Linked DNA regions of Homo sapiens. The protein of the gene in region 7 purifies or fractionates together with the protein of the main gene of each other region. This does not show direct contact. Each region holds a gene or a part of one and is shown on either strand. Other genes may lie near its edges. The genes, in order: OTUD4, PRKAR1A, SLC25A3, RBM10, ECI2, AP3M1 and AGO3.

Region 1 (3,500 bases), on a different chromosome or scaffold from region 7:
GGTTGCAGTGAGCCGAGTTGCGCCGCTGCACCACAGCCTGGGTGACAGAGTGAGACTCTGTCTCAAAAAAAAAAAAAAAAAAATTCAGACTTGCAGTGTAAAAAATACGCTGAGTGTAAGTAATGCTGAACCCTTAATTTTATCAGAAGGCATTCATAGGTTTTTAATTTTCAGGGTTCAGTGTGAACTCACATGTCAGAACATTATAATTATGTAAGTAGTGATTAATAGTTAATAAAATGTTGTATAACAGCTTAATATAATTTTCTCAGTAGTATGTGAAATAAGATGCCACAGTGACCTGTTTTCATTTTACATTCAAAGTCTTACAGGATTTATTACTTACTGGTTTTAAGACCTAGAATTATGTAATCTGACAACTTTGGGTGTTATTTCCCCCAGTTGACTGGTAGAGAATGTTGATATAATACTTTGCAAATGATAGGCTTGAAACCTTGTTTTATTAAAAAAACCTGGTAACGCAGAGGCTAGATAAGAGAGTGCAGAGGTGTGGTAGAGAAGGGAAGTGGGGAGGTGGAATGGTCTTTAAATTAATTCTTATTAATCATTGGCCCCAGAGGGTAAAACTGTGTTGATAATAATGGACATTGCTAACATTGGTTGAGGTGCTTACTATATGCCAGGCATTAAGTGTTTTGCATATATTTTTTTTAGTCCATATAATTTTTTTTTTTTGAGACAGAGTCTCGCTCTGTCGCCCAGGCTGGAGTGCAGTGGCGCCATCTTGGCTCACTGCAAGCTCCGCCTCCCGGGTTCATGCCATTCTCCTGCCTCAGCCTCCAGTGTAGCTGGGTCTACAGGTGCCTGGCACCATCACGCCAGGCTAATTTTTTGTATTTTTAGTAGAGATGGGGTTTCACCATGTTAGCTAGGATGGTCTCGATCTCCTGACCTCATGCTCTGCCTGCCCCGGCCTCCCAAAGTGCTGGGATTACAGGCGTGAGCCACCGTGCCTGGCCTTAGTCCATATAATTTTATGAGGTATGATCAGAGGTTGAAAGTTCCATGGGGAAAAGTTTCACTTTCCTTTTATGAACCTTCAAGCAGTTTCAGTTGTCCAGAATTGGAAAGAGATGTTGTAGAAAGTATTATGCCTTGTTACTGACATTGTTCAGCCATGGCATAGGTGGACGCTTTCTGCTCAGAAAGGAGACTCTCAGAGAGGATGCAGGCTTGTGTCAGAATTCTGCAGTCTCTAGTAACTTTAAATGGTTCTGTGTTTTTTTTTTCCTTAGACCTATAATCATCTAATACAGAACAGTAGCCCTTTATTGGTGGGCTCTTTAATATATATGGCTCTTTTATTATAAATATCTTTCGAAATTTAAGATATTTTTGGCAATTTGACATTATATAATCTATGAAAGAATCTCAATCTTAAAATCCAAGGGTGCTTAAAAGATTTTATAGACAAGGGAGTATACTTTAATGTCTTTAAGTATATCTCTGCTAAATCAACTGGGACTGTAATTTAAACGCAATTGAATTTGGTGGTTCAACAAATGACTTTTAGAGATTTCTCAAATGAGTGCGATTGCTATTAAAGAAACATAAAAAAGGTTGTGTTATTACACAGCTTGAATAAACTGTTTTTATGTCAAAGTAACAATGAAGCGATGAAGCAAGCTGTATTAGAAAAATTTTGTTGATGCTTCAAAATATTTTTCGCCTTACTAGTTCTCATCGCTCTTTCTAGTATCACTTGAGAGACAATGAGTACTCTTATCTGTATTATTAAGCTATACTATTTCTTAGCTTGTAAGTCAGTCTTTGTTTTATTCCCTTCTACACACTGGTCACTACCAAGTTAAAGCACTGCTTTCATCATATAATTTCTCAGTTCAGAATGTCACCTGAAGTGGCCTTGAATGGCCTTTCTCATCTAGCCTTCAAGTCCTGCCTGGGCTCAAGGCCCTCTGTAAACAGGCCCCCCTTTGGGTTCTTCTCCCACTCAGTTCCACAACAGGTTGTCCTGCTCCAGCTGGCCAGATTGCTTGTCTTCCCAACACAGTGTTCCTCTTCCTCCTCACGCCACATTGGCCCTCTCTGTAGAGTATCAGCTGCCTGTTGCCATCCAGATCCTGTCCAGCATTCATCTTGAGTCACTCTTCTTTCAGGAAACCTTTCCTGACAGAATTTCCTTCTTTAAATTCTTTTGTATGTTTATAGTCTTTAATGATTGCTATATGTTTTCATAATTAGATTATGTACATATTTTTAAATAATACTGAGGTATTTTAGGTTTATGTACAAACTCAGTAATTCACAGTGAATGTTTACACAGCGAAGCGGTTAACTGTTTTGGCATATATGTTAGATGACATTTCTAATAGATTTATTTTTTGCAGTTTATAGAAGGATCATTTGAAGAATATTTAAAGCGTTTGGAAAATCCACAGGTATGTCACAGTCTTCTAGTATATTTCTATTTTTATATATCCAAATAATGTATTTAAAATTCATTAAAATAGAAGATTACTATTACAGTGTATAGAGGAGTTGCAGTGACGGTGTATCCTATTTCCTTATAAACGTTTCCTACACATTTTATGCAGCACTTAAGTTGGAGCTATATGTTAGAGGTTGCCTCACTAAGGCAGAGTTGTGATATTTTATCTTGGCTATAATGGCATGTAAATGTAGTATAAAAATCTGAAATAATACTGGGGTGATGATTTTCAGAATGCTACGTTGGTGTGTGTATGGAACTTGGACAGGGTGAAGTTTGATTTCTTTTTTTTTTTTTTTGAGGTGGAATTTAACTCCATTGCCAGGCTGGAGTGCATGGCATGATCTCGGCTCACTGCAGCCTCCGCCTCCCGAGTTCAAGCGATTTGTCTCCCGAGTATCTGGGACTACAGGCGTGCACCACCATGTCCAGCTAATTTTTTTATTTTTAGTAGAGATGGGGTTTCACCATATTGGCCAGGATGGTCTCGATCTCTCGACCTCGTGATCCGCCTGCCTCAGCCTCCCAAAGTGCTGGGATTACAGGTGTGAGCCACCACACCTGGCCTGCAGAGTTTTTCTTCCTAGGCAACTGAGAAGGCAGAGTTCTTTCATGCAGGTTCCTATTTCCATGATCATCTCGTGAAGAGGGAAGAGACTGTTGAGACAGAAAAGGATAGCACTTACTCACCAACTCCTGCTGCTATACTTTTTCAGTCATGTTTATGTTAAAAGGATTTTTCTTAATTTTTCTGTTTACAAAACTAACGTTCTCACTGTAAAAATCCAAGTATCTTGGAATGCCATTTAGAATGTTAAGGTAAAAATAACATTGGCAAAGAAAAAAGCTAAGAAGAGTTAAGGAGTAAAGGGAATGTAATGTAGGAACCAAGGGTGTTTGATCGATGACTGATGTATCCATTTGGTTGCCTAACACTAATTTGAGTGCTTGTTATGGGCCAAGAATTCCTAGTCACCCTGGGGATGCAGAGATAATGTAGATAACAAAAAAGTTTCCCTATCATAGGAAA
Region 2 (3,500 bases), on a different chromosome or scaffold from region 7:
ACAGTAACACACTGCAAGACAAAATCCTGAAAATTGGGTTTTTTTGGATGCTACTGCAGATAGCAAGAGACCCTCCTGCCAAAAGAAATGTTATCAGGAAAAACAATTCAAGCCCAACATAGTGATCCAAGAATGTCTAGATTACTGAGTTATTTCATTAACTCAATAAGCCATTTTCTGGATCTGCCAGGCCAAGACCTATGCTAGGCAACAGGAAATTAAAAACAAATAGGAGAGGGTCCTGAGCCTGTGGAATTCACATTCCAGTTTGATCCCAGATAAAAACAAATAATGAAATGATGTGATGGTAACCACGAATTTAAACGAGATCGTATCTATAATACTTCTCCCAGCAGAGCTAGGATCACTCTTTGTAATCAAGGTTTAAACTTGAAGTTAAAAGACAAAAAGAGTTTACTTGCTTTTAAAAACTACTTATTGGACCAATTCAAATAAAACCTAAGATAAACTATTAAACATTCCTTTTTTCACATCTAGAGCCTTAAAAACAAATTCCTCTCAGATCTAAAGAATTAGTTGTTGTGCCTGAAGTAAAAGGGAAAAAATAAAAATGTGTTATCTTCTACTTTCTCATTCATTTGACCCGTTATTTCTTTTCTATATATAAATTTGTAAGTGCCCATATATTAATCTCCAGAACATTGGCAGCATTCAAGAAAAGCAATGGCGTGGGAGGGAGACCTTTCATTATTATGCCCCTTTGTACCTGCACAACTTTGAAATATGTGAATATGTAACCTACTTTTTAAAATATGGTTTTTAGAAAACTCATTTCATGTTAATTCTGGTTGTTCCAATAACCAGTAAGGTTTTCTCATTTCATATTAACACAGGTATAAAACTCAAGTCTCTCCCAAGTTTAAAGTTTAAGAATACATGACTGGGTACAGTGGCTTACGCCTATAATCACAACCCTTTGGGAGGCCGAAGGTGGCAGATCACTTGAGTCCAGGAGTTCGAGACCCGCCTAGGCAACATTGTAAAACCTCATCTCTACAAAAACACATAAAAATTAGTTGGGCGTGGTGGCACACACCTGTAGTCCCAGCTACTTGGGAAGCTGAGGCAGGAGGATCACCTGAGCCTGGAAGGTAGAGACTGCAGTGAGCCATGATCGCACCACTGCACTCAGGCCTGGGCAACAGAGTGAGATCCTGTCTCAAAAAATAGGCCAGGCATGGTGGCTCACACCTGTAATCCCAACACTTCGGGAGGCCAAGGTGGGCAGACCACAAGGTCAGGAGTTCAAGACCAGACTGGCCATTATGGTGAAACCCCATCTCTACTAAAAATACAAAAATTAGCCAGGTGTGGTGGCAGGCACCTGTAGCCCCAGCTACTCAGGAGGCAGAGGCAGGAGAATCGCCTGAACCCAGGAGGCAGAGGTTGCAGTGAGCCGAGATTGCACCACTGCAGTCCAGCCTGGGTGACAGAGCAAGACTGTCTCAAAAAAATAATAATAAAAATAAAATAAAACACACACACAGTTTAAGAGTATAAATGAAAACACAAATTCTCCCACCCCCAAATTTGTCACTGACATTTCACAAAAATTTCAGGAAAAATTTCACAAATAACATTTCACTTGGGACTACATTCTACTTCACTGAATTTTTAAGATTAATTTTGAAGTAACAAAAGCATTCTGATTTTAGCAGTGTCTCATGGATTCTAGTGAGTCTTTTAAAAACAGCAATCTGAATATAACCTAATCTGACAACTCAGAGCCATTACTCAGATCATGAGTTTTCTAGTATATACTATGATATATTTTTATATCCTTTCTCTTGCTGTTGTCATCCTTCTGTCAGTCTCCTTCCTCCTCAGCTCTTTAAGTGAGGTGATGAATAACCTAAATACCTTGACGTGATCATTACACATTCTATGCCTGTAAAATATCACATGTACTCCATAAAAACATACAAATGTTATATATCAATAAAAAATTAAAAATTAGAAAAAACCTCCCAGTCTACTCAGTGGTTAATTATGTTCTTGACTCTGAGGTTCAAATTCTGCATTCGGTTTTGCATTAAATTCTGCACTATCTTCTTGACTCTTAGGTTCAAATTCTGTCCCCACTACTATGTTTTCCCGATTATTTGTTCCCTCCCTGCTTCTGTCACTCTTCCCTGTGGGTAAAGTATACTTCCCACCCCACTGACTTAAGGCTTGGCTACAGGACTTGCTCTGGCCATGGAATGTAAGTGGACATGCCATACCATGGTTGCCTGTGTGGTTTGGCTCTGTCCACCTTGAGCTTCTGCCCTCCCTCTGCTTTGAGAACAGCATGCCCTATATAGGGCTGCTCCTTCTGCTCAGCCCCAGAACAAGATATGTGGTGTCAAGAACATAAGACAGGCTGATACCAGAAGAACTGCACATGACTGGTCTGTTGTAGTAACCACTGAAATTTGGGGGTTGTATGTTGCTCCAGCAAAAGCTGACGACTACAGTCTATAACCACAGCCACATTACTTAATTTCTCTCAGTTTTACTGCTATGTCTATAAAATGCTGAAAATCACATACCTCGTACATTTGAAATAACGAGTATTTATGTATATAAAGTGCTTCACACAGTACCTGACACAGCAGACACAAGGTCACTGTTATTTTAATTCCTCTTACCTAAGGGTCTAATAAATACAAGAGTAAAAGAAGACTCAAATTCCAGATGACTGAATTAAAATGCAGAAGCTTTCAAAAGACCAACTGTCAAGAGTTTTTGGTACATTTCTTATGGAGTAGTTGAAGGTAACAGAAACACAACCCCCCAGTAATGACGAAGAAGGTGATGAGAATATGACTGTATTTTCAGACTGATATGGTTTGGCTGTGTCCCCACCCAAATCTCATCTTGAATTATAGTTCCCATAATCCCCACATATTGTGGGAGGGACCTGGTGGGAGGTAATTTAATCACAGGGGTGGTTACCTCCATGCTGTTCTGGTGATAGTGAGCTCTCATGACATCTGACAGTTTTGAGGGGCTTTTCCCCCTTTTGCTTGACCCTTCTCCTTGCTGCTGCCATGTGAAGAAGAATGTGTTTGCTTCCCCTTCTGCCATGATTGTAGCTTCCCGAGGCCTGCCCAGCCATGAGGAACTGTGAGTCAAACCACTTTCCTTTATAAATTACCCAGTCTTGGGTATGTCTTTTATTAGCAGCATGAGAACAGACTAATACAGTAAAATGGTACACAGAGCGTGGGGTGCTGTTACAAGGATACCCAAAAATGCAGAAGCAACTTTGGAACTGGGTAACAGGAAGAGGGTGGAACAGTCTGGAGGGCTCAGAAGAAGACAGGAAAATGTGGGAAAGTTTGGAACTTCCTAGAGATTTCTTGTACGGCTTTGACCAAAATGCTGATAGTAATATGGACAATGAAGTCCAGGCTAAGGTGGTCTCAGATGGAGATGAGGAACTTGAGAACTGGAGTAAAGGTGACTCTCGCTATGCAAAGAGACTGGCAGTATTT
Region 3 (3,182 bases), on a different chromosome or scaffold from region 7:
GGCATTGATACAAAATACGCTGTGTTCAAGCTATGGAGCCTGCCACTGTAGTTACTAGAGTTACGGTTCAAAGCTATTTCTGAGAGAAAGCCACTTCATCCTCAAAACCCAAGAGGCCCACTTAAAGTGATGCGAATTCTCATTTCAGGTTTTTAAATTATACTAAAAGATTCTAGTAAGAAAATTTTAATATGTATGTATTGGTGTTCTTTTTACATTTCATTTAATGAAATGTCTACTGTCAATACGATAAAGCAGAACCCAGTGGAGTAAGAATACACGAAACTGCCAGGCACAGTGGGTCATGCCTGTAAACCCAGCATTCTGGGAGGCCGAGGCGGGTGGATCACCTGAGGTCGGGAGTTCAAGACCAGCCTGACCAACATGGAGAAACCCTGTCTCTACTAAAAATACAAAATTAGCTGCGGTGGTGGTGCGTGCCTGTAATCCCAGCTACTCAGGAGGCTGAGGCAGGAGAATCGCTTGAACCCGGGAGGCGGAGGTTGTGGTGAGCCAAGATTGCGCCATTGCACTCCAGCCTGGGCAACAACAGCGAAACTCTGTCTCAAAAAAAAAAAATATATATATATATATATATATATGAAGCTGATAGTTGAATTATGTTGATTCAGGGACAAGATAGCATTGCATAGTAACTTCCAGTAGGATCAAATATTTTGAGAGTGGTTAAAACGCCAAGGAATCCTGATTTTATGAAATTATGCCTTCTGATAGGTGCAACAAAATTGAACAGAAGAGTAACAGCTTAACTAAACCTCCATTGTGTGAAAGTTTTATGAAATGTTTTGACTTTTTTTTTTTTTTCCCTAGAGAACAGGGTTCTTGCTTTGTCGCCCAGGCTGGAGTACAGCCTTGAACTCCTGGGCTCAAGCGATCCTCCTGCCTCAGCCTCCCAGTTAGCTGACACAATTGGGATGTGCCACTACTTGCTCCTGTTTTTTCATAGACGGGTCCTGCTGTTGCTCAGGCTGGTCTCGGATTCCTGGCCTCAAGCAACTTTCCTGCCCCAGCTCCTAAAGCGGCCAGGGTTACAGGTAGCCGCCTTGTCTGTCCCGTTTCGACCATATTTTATTTTTGAGAAGGTCTTGCTCTGTCGCCAGACTGGAGTGCAGTGGCACGATGATAGCTCACTGCAGCCTCGATCTCCCAAGCTCAAGTGATCCTCCCACCTCAGCCTCTTGAATAACTGGGACTGCAAGTGTGGACCACCATGTCTGGCTAATGTTTTTTATTTTTAGCAGAAATGAGGTCTTGCTATGTTGCCAAGGCTAGTCTTGAACTCCTGAGCTCAAGCGAGCCTTCTGCCTTGGCCTTCCAAAGGGCTGGGATTAGAGGGCTGAGCCACCACACTTGGCCAACCATATTTTATTTTTTATATTTTTATTTTATTTGATCCTTGTTCTGAAACCATAAAGTGAGTTTAACATTTCTGGCTGGGCACAGTGGCTCATGCCTGTAATTCTAACACTTTAGGAGACCAAGGCAGGAGGATGCCTTGAGCCCAGGAGTTTGAGACCATCCTGGACAACATAATGAGAAAAGAAAATACAAAAATTAAGGGGTGTGGTGACACATGCCTGTAGTCTCAACTATTTGGGAGGCTGAGGCAGGAGGATTGCTTGAGCCCGAGAGGTTGAGGCTACAGTGAGCCATGTTTACGCCATTGCAGTCCAGCCTGGGCGACAGAGTGAAACCCTGTCTCAAAAAAAAAGTAACATTTCTATATGATTTTTGGGATCGACATGTCCATAATGTTAATGAAGCGCATAGCAGTCACTAGTAAATTAGGAGTTATACATTGCTTCTATAGCATCAGAAATTGTATATCAGGCCAGGTGCAAAAGCTCACTCCTGAAATCCAAGCACTTTGGGAGGCTGAGGTGGGCGGATTGCTTGAGGTCAGGAGTTCAAGAACAGCCTGGCCAACATGATGAAACCCCAGGTCTCTACTAAAAATACAAAAATTGGTCAGGCATGGTGGTGCATGCCTGTAATTCCAGCTACTCGGGAGGCTGAGGCAGGAGAATTGCTTGAACCCGGGAGGCAGAGGTTGCAGTGAGCCAAGATTGTGCCACTGCACTCCAGCCTGGGCGACAGAGCCAGACTGTCTGAGGAAGAAATTGTATATCAGGCTGGGCACAGTGGCTCATACCCGTAATCCCAGCACTTTGGGAGGCCCAGGCTGGGTATCACTTGAGCCCAGGAGTTGGAGACCAGCCTGGGCAACAAAGTGAGACCCCTCTCTCTACAAAAAATAAATTAGCCAGGCATGGTGGCACGTGCCTGTAATCTCAGCTACTTAGGAAGCTGAAGGAGGATCGTCTGAGCCCAGGAGTTTGAGGCTGCAATGAGCTACAATCACACCCCTGCACTCCGGCCTGGGCGACAGAGTGATAACCTGTCTAAAAAAATAAAAATAAATTGTATAATCATATTGCAATTTTCTTTGCATTACTGATGAGGAAAAATCTCAAAGTAATTGTAAAAAATCCTGGATATCACATAGTTGAGAAACAAAGTTATTTTAAACTTACAGGACTCTGTAGTTCACAGTTGAACACTGTGGCTTCCTGAAATATCAAAGAATAATGTACATTAATAAGCCAGCTACTATCGGCATCTTGTAAAAATTAAAAAATTAAACATAAATAAAAGTTCAAACTATGTGTTGAATCATTTGTCTTTTACAAGCCAGCCCTGACTTCACATTCTCAGAGGTGTTCATAGAAGTGCATGAGATGTTAACCTCACCACTGATAAGGTTTATGAATCTCCTGGTTATTAAGGTGTGACCTGACAAGTTTCCTAGAAAGCAGCTATTCCAGAGTTTTCATGTGTGTTTTTATAGACACTGAAGTGCAGTATGCAATAGTCACTTAATAAGTATTGCTACACTGAATGAAAGAGCCTTGGGGATGTGTCTCTTACACAAGATATAATTCCTACCTAATACTGTGAATAATAATTTGATGTTCAAATCAGCCAGCTTGCTTTGCAGAATCCAGTGTATTGCAAAGTTTGAAGATGGAAAATAATTCATGTGACAGGCCATATCATTATTCCAAGACCCATGATCTTAACACTAGAGGGCTATATTAGTCAAGGTTAAAACTGCTAAATCTCAAGGAAGCATTAACATCTGAAAATATGGTATACCCAAC
Region 4 (3,500 bases), on a different chromosome or scaffold from region 7:
GCGGGTTATCCCCTTGCCAAGGGCAAGAATTGCATCCCAGGTTTCCTTACTTCGTGGCTGCCAGCGAGCCCTTTGTCAGATCACCCTGCCCACCGTTCTTAAGTGGCTGGCTCACTTGCTCTCTTGTTCTCTGTGCCCCTGAGGGTCGTCCTGCTGCCATGCTTTACCTTGCTCTGTGCCCATTTCTTCATTTGATTCACTTTCTGCAAGTCTGGGGCTGAAAGTCAAGACTGTGAACTGGTGTGGGCCTGGGGCTGTTGTCACTCAGGGAAAAGCTGCGAAAGAGGCGGAGGAGACTGTGTGCACATCACCGATGACCCCTCGGGATCCAGAGGCCTCCAGCCAGCCTCAGGTACCCAGCGGCCCCATTGTGCTGAGCCTGCCCTACTCTGTATCTCCCCGTATAGATCCGTGGCCAGCTGCAGTCGCACGGCGTGCAAGCACGGGAGGTTCGGCTGATGCGGAACAAATCTTCAGGTGAGCTTTTGTTCTAGTGCCCTCCCCTTCAAGTGGCCAGCCTCAGCCTCCGAATCTCCCTCCTGCCTCTGCCTTCTCCCCCACTCCCTCCACCACCTTCCTGCCACAGCTGGGAATGGGCAGCGTGGGGGGTGCCCTCTCTTCTCTCCCACTCCCCACACTCTCCTCACAGCTCCAGCCAAAAGCCTCTTCAATGGGGCTGTCGGGGCAGGGGTGCAGCTCTGAGCTGAGCTGGGTGCTCCCTGGGGTCAGGGCCAGGGCCAGGCTCCCAGGCACCTCCTCTCTGGGACTCTGAGTATCTGAGATGGTAACCCCCTCCCATACACTCCCTTCCCTCTCCTTTCTTCTCCTTCCTCTGCCCCTCACTTTCCCCCACATTTTTTGGTAACAGCCTCTGACCAGAAAGTAGCTCTGACGTGGTGGTCCCACATGTGTGTCCCAAGGGGGAAGCAGGGGATGGCTCTTATCCAAGGACACATCCCAAGGAACAGCCAGGACTTCCTGGCCTCGCCTGTTCCCTCCCTCCCTCCCTCTTGCAGGCTGCTTGGAGCTGGCCTGAGGTTAGCAGGGTGGTGGTGGGGGGAGTTGTCTCTACAGGACCTCTGCCCAGGCTCCCCAAGGCAGGCACAGTGGGGCCTCACTCTGCCTGGGCTTCTCTCTCCATCTCTCAGTCTCTCCTCCCCACACCTCCATCTCTCTCTCTCTCTCTCTCTCTCTCTCTCTCTCTCTCTCTCTCTTTCTCCCTCTCTCTCTTTCTCTCTCTCTGCCCCCCCCAACTATATTATTCATTCCATCCTCCTATGCATCCTAACGGTTATTCTTTTGAACATTAAGCATGCCCCCCCAAGCCCCTCTCATCCAAGCCCTCCCCATGTATCTGCCTCTAAAGGACATGCTATCCTGAGGCCTCAACCCTGAATCCCTTTCCCAAGCCTGGAATCTTGGTTGCATGTAGGTCTTGCTCTGCATCACCCCAACTACACCACACACGGACAGCTTCTGGGTCTCTCTCTCCACAAGGAGGTGTTCCAGGTGCGGCCTTCTCAATGGCCCTGGGCGCTTCTCCCAGGCACCCATTGATTCTTACCTCTAAGGTCCTCCTGGCCAATCCTGGCCACCATTCTCCTTTTGTCCAGGGGAACCTGGACTGTTTGTGGCTGTAGTCTCCACCCTGTGGCCCTGAGGTGGCTCCCTAGCGAGGCCCGCCTCCCCTGCGCTGCGGTGAGGCTGAGATGAGGTCGTGTCTTTAACCGCCCCTGGTTTCCAATGGGCCAAGAGCCTTCCTAGCCTCGCAGAGCAGCCTGGCCCAGCTTCTCTTTTGCTCCTGTGATTCAACACCTGTTACAGGACCCCTCCTGGGCACCCCTGGCCTTGAGCTGGGCCCGCCCTGGAGTTACGTATTGTGGCTTGTGTGGAGCCAGCAGCCTGCCCACCATCCCCTCCCTCCTTCTTTGGAGGCAGATCTCTCGTATTCTTTCCCTCCCAGCTGCTTCTCTCCGTCTCTGTCACCCCAGGCTGGCTGGGCAGGTCTGCCCGAGCCCCATCTCTCTCTTCCCAGTTGGTGTGTGTGTCTCTCCCCCTACCGACCTCTGGCCTCTGTTTTTCTCCCTCCACCTTCCCTGCCCCACCTGGCCATCTACCTTGCCCCCCACGCCCGCTAGTCTTTCTCTCTCTGATTGCCTCTTTCTCTTTCTTCCTTTTTCCTCTTCCCCTTTCCCTCTCTGCCCCCCGTCCTCTCCCCTCGGGTCCCGCCCCCGGGAACGCCGTGTGTCCAAAGCTGTTGACTAACCCACTGCGTCTGTATCTGAATGCTGTCTCCAGGTCAGAGCCGGGGCTTCGCCTTCGTCGAGTTTAGTCACTTGCAGGACGCTACACGATGGATGGAAGCCAATCAGGTTGCTTTGCCGCACTTGAACCCCCCCCCAAACAAATACTACTTTGTAATCGAGCGCTCCCCATCGCCTGATTCTTATGGACACAGTTCCCTGCCCTGTGGCCCTGTGTCCCATCCCCCCGCCCCCTCTCTCCCCTTCCTGACCCTCACTATCTCCTCTTCCCATCTCTCGCTACCCCACTGGGCTTCTCATCCAGAGCCCACACTCACCACTGGCCCCTTCCTACCACCAGGCACTAGTGCTGCCCCTTCACCTCTCCCAGCTGAGCGTTCAGAGAAAGAGCTGCCAGGGTGGGTTCTTTCACCTAGCTTCCCACTCCCCCGGGGCTGGTGGGGGGGGCACCCCTCTCTGGGGTTAGCCAGAGCCAGGACCTCATTCCACCCTCAGGACCACTGGAAGTCCTGCCAGTGAGGAGCTTAGCTATTGGCACAGTCACTAGCAAGACTCATTTTGTCAGCCCCATCCCTGCATGTGAATTTGGCCCTTTGATTTTCATGCAAGGGGACAGCACTGCTCTGTTGATCTCAAGTTCCCGTCGAGTATGATAGTTTTATCGACACCCTGGCCTCACTTCGCCGCCCCTACCCTTCCTATCACATCTCCACACTCGCAGGAGGCACCACCTCAGGCAGCTCTGTCTTCTCGGCAAGGACCTGTGCACAGTCAGCCCTGGGGGGAGCCTGTCCCCCAAGCCTGGCACGGGATCCCAACTCAGCAGCTTTGGGACCTCCGAGACCCAAAGATCTGCCTGGTCACCCACCCCTGCCCAGATCCCTGGTGTAGGGCACTGGAGAGCAGTTTCAGGGGAGGAAGGGGCAGAGGTGGTAGAATGGGGGATCCCGGCAGAGGCAGCCCTGGGGCCGTCTCCTCGGGGTTGGTAGGCTAGTGCCATGGGCCCAGGACCCAGCCATCCATGGGAAGACGGCCTCATGGCAGAAACTTCCATCTGTTCGAAATGGCTCTTTCTTTTTCCCCTTCTCCAGCACTAGCGCACCTGCGCTCTCTTTCTCTTTTTCTCCCCTCTCCCTCCCCCTCCCTGTCTCCCCTCACCCCCCAAGTGTAGCCTGTGTAGTCCTGGCCCTGGGTGTGGCCTGGCAGTGTCAGGGCCGAGTGGGGGTTTCTCCCCAC
Region 5 (3,500 bases), on a different chromosome or scaffold from region 7:
GAGTCATGCCACAGGGCGTGGGCAACTAGGAAACACAGTGAAAGACCTGAGCAGCCACTTAACCAGCCTGGGAGAGAATACACCCGTGAGCAGGCTGATGGAAGGGCTGCTGTGATTGGGGGTGGCTCTGGCAGCCGTGAGCCCCCACAAAACCTCCCATCTGTTGGTACTTACTGTAACTCTGAAAGTGAAGACGTCATCATGTCTCTCCTTAGGAGATACTGGTCATCCATAAAGGAACCGAGTGGCCTCCAAACTCAGGGGACCAAGGGAGGCTGGCACAGCCCTGGTCCTTCAAGTGACTAATGCCACACAGCTGCAAGGCTGAGGTGCTGTGCTGCTTGCAGTGCAGCTAGCACTAAGCAGCCAGCTGAAGAGGAGGATCCCAGTTCTGGGAACTGCAGAGAGAATTTCTAATTTTCCTGCATAGCAGATACTTCCCATAGCCTGATTCCTCCATTGGTAAAACTCTTAAAGAGTTGAAAAGCAAATCATTAGCTTCTCTTTTGTCCATATTACCAAGGGAAAGAAGGGAGAGTATATGAGATTACTCTTCCTTCTTTCTTGAGATGACTCATAAAATTTTATATTTAAACATTCCAAAAGTTACCTTGGCTGGGCTCATTATCTTCGGAAAAGTGTAAGAGGAGCATCCTTCCGGACTTTGGCCTAGGTGACTAAATGGTGTATGAAATGTTGCCTGCAGAGGCAGGAGAGAAAAGAAAACCATCTTTTCATGTGTGATTTTTTTTTTTTTTTTTGAGACAAAGGGTTTCGCTCTTTTGCCCAGGCTGCAGTGAAGTGGCGCGATCTCGGCTCACTGCAACCTCCACCCCTTGGGTTCAAGCGATTCTCCTGCCTCAGCCTCCACAGCAGCTACGATTACAGGCATGCGCTGCCATGCCTGGCTAATTTTTGTATTTTTCGTAGAGACGGGGTTTCGCCCTGTTGGCCAGGTTGGTTTCAAACTTCTTACCTCAGGTGATCCACCTGCCTCGGCCTCCCAAAGTGCTAGGATCACAGGCGTGAGCCACCATGCCTGGCTTCATGTGTTATTTTTAAAAATCACGATTTGCTTATAACTTCACAATACTTAATAATATTTATTTAAAAATTAAGATTATGTGGTTAATATGCACACACAATTCACCCTTTAAAAGTGTATAGTTGGATGAGTTTGAACAAATAGAGAGTTACATAGCCACCACCACTACTGACATGCGGAACATTTCAGCCACCCTGAAAGGTTCCGGGGGCCCTTCTGTAGTCAGTCCCTCCCTCCCACCCCCAAGCAACTGCTAATCTGTTTTCTGTCCCTACAGTTTTGACTTTTATAGAATGCTGTATAAGTGGAATCCTACATTCTGTAGCATTTTGAGTCTGACTTCTGAGAGTCACCATGCTGTTGTATGTATTAGTAGTTTGTTCCTCGCTATTTCTGAGTAGTATTCCTTTGTATGGATGCACAATAATATGTTTATCATTCACCAGTTAATGCCATTGGTGTTGTTTCTAGCATTCAAATGGTTGTACCATTTGACACTGCCACTAGCAACGTATGAAAGGCTACTATGAAGAAGGCTGCTATGAAAAACAAGTTGAACACCTTAAATATATCTAGTCGTGTGTTGCTTAACAATGGGGATATGTTCTGAGAAATGCATAATTAGGCAATTTTGTCATTGTGCCAATATCATGGAGTATACTTACATATACTTGGATGCCACAGCCTACTGCACACCTAGCTATGTGGTAATCCCTACTGCTTCCAGGCTACCAACTTGGACAGCATGTTACTATACTTAATACTCTAGGCAGTTATAACAAATGGCATTTGTGTATCTAAATATATCAAACATAGAAAAGGTAGGCCGGGTGTGGTGGCTCATGCCTGTAATCCCAACACTTTGGGAGGCAGAGGTGGGCAAATCACCTGAGGTCAGCAGTTCGAGACCAGCCTGGCCAACGTAGTGAAACCCCATCTCTACTAAAAATACAAAAATTAGCCTGGTGTGGTGGTGTGCACCTGGAGTCCCAGCTACTCGGGAGGCTGAGGCACAAGAATTGCTTGAACCCGGGAGGAGGAGGCTGCAGTGAGCCGAGATCATGCCACTGTACTCCAGCCTGGATGACAGAGTGAAAAAAAAAAAAGAAAAGGTATAGTAAGATATGGTGTTATAATCTTAGGAGACCAGCGTTTTACATGCAGTCTGCCATTGACTAAAATGTTGTTATGCAGCACCTGACTGTACAATTCTTATTTGTCAAGTATACCTCAATGAAACTGAAAAAAAATTTAAAAATAAAAATGTTCAGATAATGTTAACAAAAAGGCAGTTAGGAACACTTGTGTACAGGTCACTGGGTGAATCTCTTTTAAATTATCATAGGTAAATACCTAAGTGGTATGGCTGGTCTGTGTGGTAAATGTATATTTAGCTCAGAAGCTGCTAGACTGTTTTCTAGAGTGGTTGTACCATTTGACATTCCCACCAGCAATGTATGAAAGTTCCAATTGCTCCACATCCTCACTAAACCTAGCTATTAAGTCTTTTTCATTTTAACCATGCTAGTATGTATGTAGTGGGGTCTCACTGTGGTTTTAATTTACATGTCCCTAACCATTAATGGTATTAAGTCTCTTACCATGTACTTATTAGACATACGTATATTTTCTTTGGTGAAGCAACTGTTAAGATATTTTCTCCACTATTTTTTTAAGTTAGGCTGTTTACCTTCCTATTATATAGTTGTAAGATACACATTCAGATTGCAAGTCTTTTATTAGAGCGTCAGGCAAATCTTTTCTCCTGGTCTATGGCTTATCTTTTCATTTTCTCAGTGGTTTCTCTCATATGGTTTTAATAGCCCTTTATATTTCATTTTGTCTGACCTATTCATTCCTCACCATTGCCCATTTTTATTTTAGCTTGTGGATCTATCGCTTTATAGACAAACTTTAAAAAGTATCGTGGAGAGATCAGCTTTTGTTACATGAGTTGAAAAATTGTTTCCTCAATCTGTCATTTGTCTTGATTTTGCCCCAGTGGTTTTTTTGGTTGGCTTTAACTACTGGAATTAATTCAATATTGGTTATTTAGTATATAGTCATTTTTAGTTTTTTTTTTTTTTACATTTAAGACATATTTTTGTGTTTCTTAATGAATAAATTATGAAAGAATGTTAATTTAAAATTCATAATATGTAAAAGAATATTTAGATTTCATTTCCTATAATCAGACACGCTGTTGTTTTTACTATATAACTGTTAGAAGATATAAATCTATAACATATGCAGCATATACATAAAAATAATCACAATATTTTTAAAAGTTTCTGTTAATGTCATGTATCTTCTTTTTTTATCCAAAAGAAAACTTATTCAAAAAAATGTACCCAGAAGACACAGCCTAAGGAATACAAGCAGGAAACTGAGAAACCTGCCAACAACAGCTAAAGGGACACAAACAGGTACATGCAAAGTTGCCAGTAAGCAGCAT
Region 6 (3,500 bases), on a different chromosome or scaffold from region 7:
ATACTTAACTCTGGCTGGAATATAATAATAATTCTTTTATTTTTAAGAGATAAAGTCTGACTAGCTAGTCCCAGCTGGTCCCCAGAGTAACTGAGACTACAGGTATGCCACTGTAGAATATAATTTTTTTTTTTTTGAGACAGGGTCTTGCTCTGTCACCCAGGCTGGAGCGTAGTGGTGCTATGATAGCCAGCCTCAACCTCCTGGGCTCAAGCAATCCTCCCACCTCAGCCTCCCAAGCAGCTGGTACTACAGGCATGCACCTCCACGCCTGGCTAATTTTTGTATTTTTTTTGTAGAGACAGGGTCTTGTTATGTTGCCCAGGCTGGTCTCAAACTTCTGGGCTCAAGCAATCCGCCTACCTTAGCTTCCCAAAGTGCTGGGATTACAGGTGTGAGCTACCATACCCAGCCAGAATATGCTAATTCTAAGGAAAATTAAACTGTTTCCTTTATGGAGCCAACCCTGTAAGATGACTGGATATGAGTTTAAAACATTTGGCAGGACGCAGTGGCTCATGCCTGTAATCCTAGCACTTAGGGAGGCTGACGTGGGTAGATTATCTGAGCTCAGGAGTTTGGGACCAGCCTGGGCAACATGGCAAAACCCCGTTTCTACTAAAAATACAAAAAATTAGCCAGGCGTGGTGGTGTGTGCGTGTAGTCCCAGCTACTTGGGAGGCTGAGGCAGGAGAATCGCTTGAACGTAGAAGGCGGAGGTTGCAGTGAGCTGAAACCACAACACTGCACTACAGCCTGGGCGACAATGTGAGACTCTGTCTCAAAAACAAAATAAAACAAACCAACCAAAACCATTTTCAATAGAATTTTATTTTTTTTTAATTTTTTTTTTGAGACGGAGTCTTGCTCTGTCACCCAGGCTGGATGGAGTGCAGTGGCGCTATCTGGGCTCACTGCAAGCTCTGTCTCCCGGGTTCACGCCATTCTCCTGCCTCAGTCTCTCGAGTAGCTGGGACTACAGGCGCCTGCCACCACACCCAGCTAATTTTTTGTATTTTTAGTAGAGATGGGGTTTCACTGTGTTAGCCAGGATGGTCTGGATCTCCTAACCTCGTGATCCACCCGCCTCAGCCTCCTAAAGTGCTGGGATTACAGGTGTGAGCCACCGCGCCCGGCTTCAATAGAATTTTAAAATGTGGCAAGTGTATTATGAAATGGACTAAGTTAACTTTTAAGAAATAGGATCCATAATAGAAAGATATCTCTTTTTTTTTAAGAGACAGGGTCTCCCTCTGCCATCCAGGCTGGAGTACAGTGGTGTGAACATAGTTCACCACAGCATTGAACTCCTGGGCTCAAGCAATCCTCCTGCCTCAGCCTTCTGAATAGGTAGGATTAAGGAAGCCATGCCTAGCTAATCTTTTAAATTTTTGATAGATATGGGGTCTTGCTATGTTGCCTAGGCTGGTCTTGAACTCCTGGGCTCAAGTGATCTTCCTGCCTAAGCCTCCCAAAGTGCTGGGATTACAGGTGTGAGCCACCGTGCCTGGCAAAAATCTATTATTCTATAAGATGGAATGTTATAATGAAAAGGGGACTCATGGAAGAGAAGATATTGACTATAATTCACAATAAGCCATCATTACATATTAACAAGTTGTGTGACCTGGAACAGTTCACTTAACCCTTCTGGGCTTTCCTTATGTGTAAAATAAATGTAAAGGAAGGACTAGATTTTTTTTCTTTTTTCTTTTTTTGTTTTTTTAGAGATGGAGTCTCACTCTGTCACCCAGGCTGGAGTGCAGTGGTGCAATCTTGGCTCACTGCAACCTCTGCCTCCCAGGGTCAAGCAATTCTCCTGCCTCAGCCTCCCAAGTAGCTGGGTTTACAGGCGCCTGCCACCACGCCCAGCTAATTTTTGTATTTATAGTAGAGACGGGGTTTTACCATGTTGGCCAGGCTGGTCTCAAACTCCTGACCTCAAGTGATCTGCCTGCCTCGGCCTCCCAAAGTGCTGGAATTACAGGCGTGATCCACCATGCCCGGCTGCTATTTTTAATAATAAAATTTTACGATTCTTATAGAGTACTATTGTTTTGTCTGGTTAAAAAGATAATCAGATTGGGTGTGGTGGCTGATGCCTGTAATCCCAGCACTTTGGGAGGCTGAGGTAGGTAAACTGATTGAGCCCAGGAGTTCAAGACCAGCCTGGGCAACATGGTGAGACCCTGTCTGTACAAAAAAAACAAATAAAAGTTAGCCAGGCATGGTGGCGTGTGGCGTGTACCTCCTGATTGGCTGGGACTATAGGCTACTCAGGAGTTTGAGGTAGGAGGATCACATGAGCTGGAGGTCAAGGCTACAGTAAGCAGGGACTGCGCCAATGCACTCCAGCCTAGGCAAAAGAGCAAGACCCTGTACTTAAAAAAAAAAAAGAAAGTGAAAAATAATCAGATAGGGGCTTTTACCAGAAGTACTGCACATAATGTAGTAGCAAAAGCATGGTATATAGCAGATTTTCAATAAATGTTAGAAGGAATAAATAGCAAGAGGTAGAGGTACATAGGGTAATAATTGGCTTAAAGTAAGGCATTATGAGTTCTGATTTACATGTTTGGCAGACCTCAACTAGTGGTTATGAAAATTATATGTAACCTATGGGCAAAATAAACAGATTTATGGGCCAGGTGCAGTGGCTCACGCCTGTAATCCCAGCCCTTTGGGAGGCCAAGGCAGGTGGATCACTTGAGGTTAGGAGCTTGAGACCAGCCTGGCCAACATTGTGAAACCCCGTCTCTACTAAAAATACAAAAAATTAGCCAGGGCCGGGAGCGGTGGCTCACGCCTGTAATCCTAACACTTTGGGAGGCCGAAACGGGCAGATCACCTAAGTTCAGGAGTTCGAGACCAGCCTGACCAACGTGGAGAAATCCCATCTCCACCAAAAACACAAAATTAGCTGGGCATGCTGGTGCATGCCTGTAATCCCAGGTACTCGGGAGGCTGAGGCAGAAGAACTGCTTGAACCCGGGAGGCGGAGGTTGCGGTGAGCTGAGATTGCACCATTGCACTCCACCCTGGGCAATAAGAGTGAAACTGCGTCTCAAAAAAAAAAAAAAAATTTAGCCAGGTGTGGTGGCTCATGCCTGTAATCCCAGCTACTTGGGAAGCTGAAGCAGCAGGATCGCTTGAATCCAGGAGGTGAAGGTTCCAGTGAGCCAAGATCATGTGATTGCACTCCAGCCTGGACAACAGTGTGAGACCCCGTCTCAAATAAATAAATAAATAAACAAACAGATTTAAAAATCATCAGATAATGAATGCCTTTCCACCGAAACCATACTGCCAAAGGACTTCAATTTTCTTTTCCTTTCTTCTTCTTTTTTTTTTTTTTGTTGAGACAGAGCCAGGCTGGAGTGCAATGGCATGATCTTGTCTCATTGCAACCTCTGCCTCCTGGGTTCAAGCAATTTTCCTGCCTCAGCCTCCCGAGTAGCTGGGATTACAGGTGCGCGCCACCATGCCCGGCTAATTTTTTG
Region 7 (3,500 bases):
AACAGTGCTGGGGACCCCAGTGTAGGTGTCCAAGGTGTTGATGGGGATTGCTGGGATCCTCTTGCTTATCTGTTCACTGCAGGGAGAAGTTCCTCCTGGTTCCCAGCTGATCCTGATTTGGAGATGGAGTAGTGGAGGCTCAGTGTTTCTTTCTGTTCTCTGTGTGGTCATCCCGAGTTTCTGTGCTCACCAGGGTTTCTGTTACTCCTCTGATGCACTCCAGGGCTCTCCCTCAGTTATTTTCATTAAAATATAGTTGTTTGGCCCAGTGCAGTGATTCATGCCTACAATCCCAGCACTTTGAGAGGCTGAGGCAAGTGGATCGCCGGAGGTCAGGAGTTCAAGACCATCCTGGCCAACATGGTGAAACCTCATCTCTACTAAAAATATAAAAATTAGCCGCGTGTGGTGGCAGAAGCCTATAATTCCAGCTACTCCGGAGGCTGAGGCAGAAGAATCGCTTGAACCTGGGAGGTGGAGATTGCAGTGAGCTGAGATCACGCCATTACACTCTAGCCTGGGATCACGCCATTACACTCTAGCGTGGGCGACAAAAGCAAAACTCCATCTCAAAAAAAAAAAAGGTCGGACATGGTGGCTCATGTCTGTAATCCCAGCACTTTGGTAGGCTGAGGTGGGCGGATTGCCTGAGGTCAGGAGTTCGACACCAGCCTGGCCATCATGGTGAAATCCCATCTCTACTAAAAATGCAAAAATTAGCTCGGCATGGTGGTGGGTGCCTGTAGTCCCAGCTACTTGGGAGGCTGAGGCAGGAGAATTGCTTGAACCTGGGAGACAGAGGTTGCAGTGAGCCAAGATCACACTACTGTACTCCAGCCTGGGTGACAGAGTGAGACTCCGTTAAAAAAAAAAAATGTAGTTGTTTATCTGTTTTTCTGGCTTTCTTTGTGAGGGGAGCAAGCACTAGGGGCTTCTAGTCAGCCATCTTGCTGACATCACTTCCTCTGGACCTCCCATTAACCACCAACCCTGAAAATGTACAACATTAATTGTAAAGAGGAGCTGATATAAGAACATGGATAAATGAGTCAGACAATAATTTAAAGCCATGAATCTGAAACAGGTTCGTATATGTGGGACATATAAAGCTATAAGATACAGAGCTGTATGGTAAGGTACATCTGGAAATTTCTATCTTAATCAATAATGGCAAGTAACCTAAAATAGTTTTGGGTTATAGACTCTCAGACATCCTGGGAATGTCAGTTTACTTTTTGTTGTTGGAAAGTTTGAGATGCACTGATTTAAAGCTTATGTTCCACCAAGTAAAGCTAACACATTAATGAAAAGGTTTTCTGGAAAGAATAAGAAAAACTTTTTAAATTATTTAACTGAAACTTAAGGCCAGGTGCAGTGGCTCAAGCCTGTAATCCCCGCACTTTGGGAGGCCAAGGTGGGCGGATTACTTGAGGTCAGGAGTTTGAGACCAGCCTGGCCAACATGGTGAAACCCTGTCTCTACTAGAAAAAATAAAAATAAAAAAATTACTGGGTGTGGTGGCACCCAGTAATCTCAGTCTGTAATCCCAGCTACTAGGGAGGCTGAGGCATGAGAGTCACTTGAACCTGGGAGGCGGAGCTTGCAGTGAGCCGAGATCATGCCACTGTACTCCAGCCTGGGCAACAGAGTGAGACTCTGTCTCAAAAACAAACAAACAAACAAACAAAACAAAACAACAACAACAACAAAAAAAAACTAAAGCTGTAATTCTACAATTAAATTTTTTTTTATTTTTTGAGACAAGGTCTGGCTCCGTCACCTAGCCTGGAGTGCAGTGGCATGATTTTGGCTCATGGCAACCTCCCTCTGCCTCCGCGCTCAAGTGATCCTCCCACGACAGCCTCCTGAATAGCTGAGACTACAGGCACGTGCTACCACACCTGGCTAATTTTTATATTTTTTGTAGAGACGGGGTTTCTCTATGTTGCCCAGGCTGGTCTCAAACTCCTGAACTCAAGCAATCTGCCCATCTCAGCCTCCCAAAGTGTTGGAATTATAGGCGTGAGCCACCATGCCCAGCCCAATTAAACTCTTTCACATGCTTAATACTACTAGTACATGTCAAAGTTTTCTATAAAATGTTATCGTCATTAGCTGAGTGTGGAGGCCTGTTGTCCCAACTACTTGGGAGGCTGAGGTGGGAGGACTGCTTGAGCCCAAGAGTTCTAGTCTAGCCTGAGCAAAATAGTGCTTTCTCTTTCTCTCTCTCTCTTTTTTTTTTAAAGATGCATATGCTAAAGGAACAATCAGGTACTTTCACATTTTTTAACATTTTAGTGAAATTAAGGGCCTGTTTTAGGGAGATTCATTCTATTAAACTACTTATATTCTGGTATTTTCATAAAAATAAGTTCCTAAGCCCCTCTCAAGGTAAGGAAAGGGAAGACATTTGTTTACTGAAAGTTTCATCTAATTTCATGTGGAAACAATTTGGAATGCAAAGAGTATTTCTTTATCCTTTTTCTGAGATTTAAAAAATACACGTAAGAATGACAGTTCTTGAATTAAAATATTTTACCCAAAGTGTAGGCTTACCTGTATTCCAGCATGGCTACAGAGGTAAAAATCGAACTCATATGGGTGTGTAATGTCTGTATCAACTGTTGTTCCAGCTGGGATATTGCCACTTCTTCCAACCTAGATTTGTTTGGTTAAAGTTTAAACAAACAAGAAAAAGGTAAAAATATATCTGAAAGCACTTTAAAAAATGTATGAATACATAGGCTGATCCTACATTTCACTACTTTCACCTTGAAATATGACTTAAGCAGTCATTCAGAGCAGACTACGCAGGTCCTAGTTCCTATTCTTACATGTTGCTGAAAGTGAGCGCTGATACACAACAAAACCTAATACAGTCTCTACTACTGCTTAGCTGATAGTTGACCCCACTATGGGTGGAAGACACTAAAAAAAATTTTTTTTAAATTAACTTAAAGTGCTCCAATTTATGGTACCTGTGCATAGTAGGTATTCTTGAACGTGTGATTTATGAAGATCAGCATTTACCTTGGAGAAAACTAGATGTTTAGAGAGAGAGAATGCTGACAAGATCAACAACAGTCACACCATTTGTTAACCATTTATGGATCAGGCACTTTGAACACATTATTTCTAAAACCTGGTAACAATCCTGCAAGTTAGGGATTATTTCCATTTGTTTAGGGAAATAAAGGCTCAGGAATACAAAATAATTTGCTCAATAGCACACAATAAAGGGCAGAACTGGGATTCAAACAATGAAATAATTGCAAAGGCCTTATTCCTTTTATTTCATACTATCAGTTTCAACATCTTGTAAGAGGACACCATGATTTTCTCTGAGTGGATATAATATAACTGAAATGACCCAAAATTCTTGATGATACAAGCTCCTTATAAAACACTTAAAAATGTTTATTATACCCACCTCCACCGCCTTATCCCAACACATTTAAAATCATTAACTGTAAGTCTAGGTTTACAAGGCTAGCAAATCA

What was found.
Region 1: the proteins of AGO3 (region 7) and OTUD4 purify together in Homo sapiens (affinity purification with mass spectrometry; one study listed by BioGRID and IntAct). This does not show direct contact.
Region 2: the proteins of AGO3 (region 7) and PRKAR1A purify together in Homo sapiens (affinity purification with mass spectrometry, with the first as the bait; one large-scale study listed by BioGRID). This does not show direct contact.
Region 3: the proteins of AGO3 (region 7) and SLC25A3 purify together in Homo sapiens (co-immunoprecipitation; one large-scale study listed by IntAct). This does not show direct contact.
Region 4: the proteins of AGO3 (region 7) and RBM10 purify together in Homo sapiens (co-immunoprecipitation; one large-scale study listed by IntAct). This does not show direct contact.
Region 5: the proteins of AGO3 (region 7) and ECI2 purify together in Homo sapiens (co-immunoprecipitation; one large-scale study listed by IntAct). This does not show direct contact.
Region 6: the proteins of AGO3 (region 7) and AP3M1 purify together in Homo sapiens (affinity purification with mass spectrometry; 3 studies listed by BioGRID and IntAct, with this or other methods). This does not show direct contact.

What each region holds. Positions count from the first base shown.
Region 1 is NC_000004.12:145,170,590-145,174,089, reverse strand, and holds part of OTUD4 (OTU domain-containing protein 4), read left to right. Parts: intron 1-2,369; coding exon 2,370-2,420; intron 2,421-3,500.
Region 2 is NC_000017.11:68,518,930-68,522,429, reverse strand, and holds part of PRKAR1A (cAMP-dependent protein kinase type I-alpha regulatory subunit), read right to left. Parts: intron 1-3,500. UniProt on the Homo sapiens protein: Regulatory subunit of the cAMP-dependent protein kinases involved in cAMP signaling in cells.
Region 3 is NC_000012.12:98,603,686-98,606,867, forward strand, and holds the end of SLC25A3 (solute carrier family 25 member 3 isoform b precursor), read left to right. Parts: 3' UTR 1-2,682; downstream 2,683-3,182. UniProt on the Homo sapiens protein: Inorganic ion transporter that transports phosphate or copper ions across the mitochondrial inner membrane into the matrix compartment. Mediates proton-coupled symport of phosphate ions necessary for mitochondrial oxidative phosphorylation of ADP to ATP.
Region 4 is NC_000023.11:47,172,721-47,176,220, forward strand, and holds part of RBM10 (RNA-binding protein 10), read left to right. Parts: intron 1-407; coding exon 408-477; intron 478-2,298; coding exon 2,299-2,372; intron 2,373-3,500. UniProt on the Homo sapiens protein: Binds to ssRNA containing the consensus sequence 5'-AGGUAA-3'. May be involved in post-transcriptional processing, most probably in mRNA splicing. Binds to RNA homopolymers, with a preference for poly(G) and poly(U) and little for poly(A).
Region 5 is NC_000006.12:4,118,576-4,122,075, forward strand, and holds part of ECI2 (enoyl-CoA delta isomerase 2), read right to left. Parts: intron 3,472-3,500; exon of another isoform or gene 3,374-3,471; intron 701-3,373; coding exon 611-700; intron 1-610. UniProt on the Homo sapiens protein: Able to isomerize both 3-cis and 3-trans double bonds into the 2-trans form in a range of enoyl-CoA species. Has a preference for 3-trans substrates.
Region 6 is NC_000010.11:74,130,329-74,133,828, forward strand, and holds part of AP3M1 (AP-3 complex subunit mu-1), read right to left. Parts: intron 1-3,500. UniProt on the Homo sapiens protein: Part of the AP-3 complex, an adaptor-related complex which is not clathrin-associated. The complex is associated with the Golgi region as well as more peripheral structures.
Region 7 is NC_000001.11:36,042,605-36,046,104, reverse strand, and holds part of AGO3 (protein argonaute-3), read right to left. Parts: intron 2,659-3,500; coding exon 2,557-2,658; intron 1-2,556.